Regions from separate parts of the Homo sapiens genome. Here region 2 is linked to region 1. The links come from fine-mapping of genetic effects on gene expression. A gene starts in region 1. The other region holds a variant in brackets. All regions are shown on one strand. Distances are between the middles of the regions.

Evidence for each region. PIP is the estimated chance that this variant, and not a neighbour inherited with it, causes the effect. A credible set is the group of variants that fine-mapping cannot tell apart.
Region 2: its variant is the best candidate, but not a certain one, in a credible set for the expression of RGS19 in whole blood (TOPMed, PIP 0.63).

Annotation. Positions count from the first base shown.
Region 1 is chr20:64,078,121-64,081,008 of GRCh38, reverse strand. RGS19 (regulator of G protein signaling 19) reads left to right here and starts at 1,491. Exons shown (of 6, transcript NM_005873.3): 1 at 1,491-1,715. It overlaps OPRL1 (opioid related nociceptin receptor 1), which reads right to left and starts at 927. Exons shown (of 5, transcript NM_182647.4): 1 at 657-927. RefSeq lists silencers at 343-516, 910-1,589.
Region 2 is chr20:63,611,007-63,613,902 of GRCh38, reverse strand. All of the region lies in intron 2 of GMEB2 (glucocorticoid modulatory element binding protein 2), which reads left to right. Among named protein-coding and RNA genes, the nearest start is that of GMEB2, 15 kb to the left of the region's middle. The variant G/A (reference allele first, on the strand shown) is at 1,446.

The DNA.
Region 1 (2,888 bases):
TGCTGGCTTCTGGTCCTACTGCCTGGCCCACAGGGGCACCCAGATACTGATACTTGTCCGTTGAATGAGGAATACAAGTAGAATCTCCAGCTGCCTTTGCACCCCTCAGAGTTCTGTGAAGGTGTAAGGTGTGCACCTGACCTGTGCAACTGGAAGGCATTTTATGAACAGATCCCGACACTGGGAACTATCCGGGTGGAGTGCTTGTGCTGGGGAGGACAGGAGCTGCACACAGCCGGGCCAGGGGAGGGGCGGGGGGCACAGATGCTCTGCAGACACTTCCAGAGCAGGGTCAGGGCCACCCTGACACAGGGCCAAAGCATGCTGCGATGAGAAGCCTAACCCACGTCTGTACCGAGTCATAAAGGATGAGAAGAGTCGGCCAAAGGGACAGGGCGTTCGTGGCAAAGGGGACAGTGTGGCCTTAAGCTTTAGGACATCTTGGGACACACGGGTCAGCAGGGACTCTGCCAGGCCCCACAGGAGACATTCGGCATGACTCCGGATGCAAGAACCCGCACCCCCAGTTCTCCCCAGCCCCGCAGCACAGGAATCTCCCCCTTCCTTGGGAACCCCCCACAGCACAGACAGGCGGCTCTTAACCCAGTTTTACAGACGCGGCTCACGGAGGCGAGGGGTGGGCCGGGCTGGCGTACCCGCCGATCGGTCCTTTGCAGCAGCCTCCTCTTTCCCAAGCTGGGCAAGCAGCATATGGGGCCCAGCTCTCGTGCCTCCACTGTCGTGGAAGTCCCACACGGATGGCAAAGCAGGAACGGCCCCGCCGAGCAGAGTCGGGGGCCACGGCCACACCCCCATCTACTACCGTGCGGCTCCGTCCGCCCGGGAGCCAGGGCTCCACTATGAGCACCTCGACTCTCCGGGCCACCCCCAGGCGACTGTGGGGGCCGACGCGCGGGCGGGGCGGGTGGGGTGCGGAGCCGGCCGAGCGCGGGGCGGGGCGCGGCGGGCGGGGCGGGCCCGGCGACCGCCGGCGCGAGGAAGTCCCGGCCCCTGGCTTTGGGGAAGTGCCGCCGAGGCGCCTGCGCACTGCGCCCCCGCGCCCCCTCCCCGACTGTCGGGCCGGACCTTGGAGCGCGCGGGCCGGCGGCGGCGCGAGTGGCTCGGGAGCGCGGCTGGTGAGTGCGCGCGCGCAGCGCCGGGGACAGCGGCCCTGCCCCTCCCGGCCCGGGCCCGGGGACCGTGCTGGGCGGGAGCTTCGGGAGCCGGCGCACGGGACTCGAACCCCAAGGGCTCCCGCCGCCAGGTCCACGTGGACCCTGGGCCGCAGTGGAAGTGGAGCCCGCCCCCCGCGCGTGGGGGAGGGGGCGCCGCAGCCGGGTTCCCCTTTTTCTGGAGCTCAAAGCCTGGGGAAGTGATTGCTCAAAGGTGGGGGCCGGAAGAACCCAGGTTTCCGCGTCTCCCTCCCCCTCTCAGCCCGGTGAGGAGGGGCCGGGGCGGGACACCCTGTCCGCCCCCGCCCCCACCCCGCTGGATCTGGCAGCCACTCAGCCCTTCGAGCTGTAGGGGAGGCGCTGCGCCCCCGGCCCCAGCCGATCGGGGGCTCCTGGCGCTAGCCTCCCTCCAGAGCGCCGCAGGAGTCCCTCCTGCCGTCTGACTTGAGTCCCTGCTGCTGCAGTGCACGCCCCTTCGGCAGCCAGGGTGGGGCCCAGACCCAACCTGGCCCCTCCTGCCCCCACCCCGCCTTTGGGTCGCTGGTGAGTAGGGAGCTTTGAGGTAGGGGTGGGGGCGTCAGAGGCTGAAGAAAGAGGCACCTGGAGGAGAACACAGGCTTCTCCAGACTGGACCCTAACAGCAGAGAGAGGAGCGTGGTGGGTGGGCCACCACCACCATTTCAGAGGTGGGGAGAGCTGGCCTTCCCTGGAGGGGCCAGGCCAGGGCTCGCCCACCAGCCAGATGTGGAGGGTGGCAGATGGGAAAGGCCCTGGGTAGGAGCTAAGGACTGAGAATGGAGCCCCTCTTCAACCCCCCTCCCAAAGGTTATGACATTTTTTTCTGGGATTGTCACATTTTCTTATTCTTTTTTTGGACTGGGCAGGCTCTGGGACGTTCTTTTTCCTTCTGTGGAGCAAAGCGGCAGCCACTCCCAAGGGATCCTCTATCCCCAGAGAGCAGACGTGCCGCCTATCCAGCCTATCCCATCCCAGACTTGGGGGCCAAAGCCTGGGAGGCTGGGGAAGGGGGTCCCCAATGCCAGGTTGACAAGCAGGAGGACCCTAGTTGAGACTCTGTATCCCCCAGGAGAGACGGGGGGAGGGTAGCCTGGGGACATGGGTTGCCCCAGTTGACCTGAGAAGGGTACAGGAAGCCAGGTCCAGGGACAGGTGACCAGGTCCAGGGCCTGCAACTGGGAAAGAAGGGGCTGGCTCCCTGCTCTGCAGCAAATGCAGCCCCTAGCACCCCGGCCCTGCACCCCTAAACACGTCCCCTCCTCCAGTTCAGAGCTGGGGTGGAGATGGTAGCCCAGGGGGACAGTCTCAGGGGTGCTAGAGTGTGGGGGAGGACCCTGGGTGGGGACAGAGAGGAGGAAGAACTGCTGCCTGGGGAAGCCACAGACAGCCCCGTCTGGGTACAGCTACCAAACCTCAGGTTGCCACGCCCCTTCCTTTCCCTAGAAACTTGACCCCTGAAAGAAAGCCCAGCTGCAGGGCTACTTTCGGTCTCCTCATCTACTTGCTAGGAGCCCGTGGGACCCCCAGTCTCAGAGGAAACTGGGCCGGTGGTGAGGGGCCAAGGTCCCAGGGGATGCTGCACCTGCCCCAGACTTGGGCCAGGGCAGTGGCCTCTGCATGCCCAGGCCTCGGGGGTATTGGGGGCCCTAAGAGTGCAGAACTCCAGCACTGTCTCTTCTGAGGGCCATTCACACACCG
Region 2 (2,896 bases), 470 kb after region 1:
CATGTCGCAGGAGCATCAAGGACACTGGAGTTACCCATTTGAAATGTGGAGAGTTCAACATTAAGTACATTTTTATTGATAAACAAAAATGGGCCAGGCGCAGTGGCTCACACCTGTAATCCCAGCACTTTGGGAGGCCAGGGTGGGTGGATCACTTGTCAGGAATTTGAGACCAGTCTGGCCAACATGGTGAAACCCCGTCTCTACTAAAAGTACAAAAATTAGCCAGGCGTGGTGGCGGGCGCCTGTAATCCAGTTGGGAGGCTGCAGCAGGAGAATTGCTTGAACCAGGGAGATGGAGGTTACAGTGAGCCGAGATTGTGCCACTGCACTCCAGCCTGGGTGACAGAGCGAGACTCAGTCTCAAAAAAAAAAAAAAAAGAAAACAAAAATGTTGTAGTAATAAAATCCTGCACAGTTGTCTTCGTACACAGTTGTGGCTTAGAGCTCTCCTCTGTGGGTGTCTTGCCGGCTGGTGGCAGTGACGGACCAGGGCAGTGGCAGACACAGGCGCACGGCTGGCGCAGTGCCCTGGAGGCTGGTGTCCCACTTGCTGTCTTGGTTTCCTGTGGTCACTGTGGAAGGTGGCTCCTGTAGGTTAGCTTTGCTTTATGAACACTGAGTAGGAGCTTTTTTTCTAGGATGTTAAAAGAATTTGCTCACATCTTATGCTTGAGTTAACTCTTTGAAGAACAGTGAGAAGTAGAGAGGAAATAATTGCCAAGTTCTCTTGCTTGCTCTGTTTATGATTGTGTCAGTTTTCTTTTGCTGTTTAAGAAAACACCCAATGGCAGGCACCTGTAGTCCCAGTTACTCAGGAGGCTGAGGCAGGGGAATGGCGTGAATCCGGGGGGCAGAGCTTGCAGTGAGCCAAGATTGCGCCACTGCACTCCAGCCTGGGCAACAGAGTGAGACTGCGTCTCCGAAAAAAAAAAAGAAAAAGAAAGAAAGAAACCATCCAAAACTTAGTGGCTTAAGACAAGACATAGTTGTTATTATTTTTAATTCTGTTGGTTGGTTCGTGGTTCTGCTGGTCTGGGCCGGCCTCACCAACCCCTGTCGTCAGCTGACAGCTTGGCAAGGACCTGCTGGTCTGGGTGGCCTTGGCCACAGGGGTCTCTGGAGGGAGGCAGTCTGAGGCACAGGTAGGCTCGGCTGGGTGGCTCTCCTCTGCTTTGCCCGGTCTGTGATCCTCCACCTGGAGGCCTGGACTTCTTTGCCCCGTAAGCCCACAGTTGCAGAGGAAAGTGGGCCTCCTGCTCACTTCTGTTGCCTTGATTGACGCAAGCGACATCACCAAGTGCTGGTTCAAGGGCAGAGCTAAGACTGCCTCTTGGTAGGAAGTTACAAAACGTTGAGATCATTTCTGTGGCCACAGAATGACATTTCCATTCGTCCGCCTCCCGCCTTTTCCTGGGCCTTCCCAGCTCACCCCTTGTGGCCAC[G/A]TCGGGTCTGGGTGTGGCTGGGGCTTCTTGGTTATGGCACGTCTTGATCCAGAGACTGGTGAACTAAAACCTAGCGACTTCCCCTCCCCTACTGAGCGTGCGGTGGCAGACAAGACAGGACGGGCTCCAGGGCAGGTGGCTTGTTCGAAGGCACCTCACTGATCCAAGATGGGGCAGGGTGGCCCTTTGGCCAGATGCGGCCAGAAAGCTTTCTAAGGTGTGAGGGAAGAGTGACAACCATAGCCCAGGTTGGTCTTTATTCTGAGACCATCTCTTTTTTAAATTTTCTATTTTTTATATTTTTTCCTTTCTTAGATTTCTGTGGGTCAGAACCATTTTTTACCTTGACAGAGTCTTTTGCCAGTGGAGAAACTGGAGACATGAAATGATTTTTTGTTTTTCGAAACAGAGTCTCGTTCTGTTGCACAGACTGGAGTGCAGTGGCACAGTCACGGCTCATGGCAGCCGTGACCTCCTGGGTTCAAGGAATCGTCCTGCCTCAGCCTCCTGAGTAGCTGGGACTCTACAGGCATGTGCCACCATGCCCGGCCCCGTGTAGATTTTTAGTACAGTGCTGGGACTGCAGGCATGTGCCACCACGCCTGGCTAATGGGCTCTCACTGTGTTGCCCAAGCTAGTCTTGAACTCCTGGACTCAAGCAGTCCTCCCACCTCAGCCTCCCGAAGCACTGGGGTTACAGGCTTGAGCCACCATGTCTGGCCGATGCAAAACAATTTGATCCCCTGGGGATTCCTTGTTTGGAGAAGAACCTTCTAGCTCCACTGTGTCTGGAATGTTCCTTGCGAGATCACACTAGTCAGATGTGTTTCCTTTTTTTTTTTTGAGACCAAGTCTCACTCCGTCACACAGGCTGGAGTGCAGTGGCATGATCTCAGCTCACTGCAGCAGCCTCCACCTCCCGGGTTCAAGTAAATCTCTTGCCTCAGCCTCCTGAATAGCAGGGATTACAGGCACCCGCCACCACGCCTGCCTAAATTTTGTATTTTTCGTAGAGACAGGGTTTCACCATATTGGCCAGGCTGGTCTTGAACTCCTGACCTCAAGTGATCCACCACCTTGGCCTCCCAAAGTGCTGGGATTATAGGCATGAGCCACCACGCCCAGCCTGTTTCTTCTCTTTTAAATTGCTGTGGCATAAGGTCCTGCCAAGGTTTCCTCTGCCTCATGGCACAGTGGCCCCTTCCACACACAAGAGCCGGGTCTGGGATGGCATTTGTGCCCTTAGCCTGTGCCCTCTCCCCACGCAGAGGCGGTGCTGTGTGTCCCAGGCTGGGGACAGCAGTGCTTGTTTCTGGCAGTTTCTGAATTAGCCATGCTTGCAGCCTAACAAACCACCGCAGAGCTTGGTGGCTTAAAGCAGCAGACACTGGTCATTTCTTAAGGTTTTCGGGCCTGGGCTGGTGCTGCTGGGCCTCGCCGGGGGGTCCAGG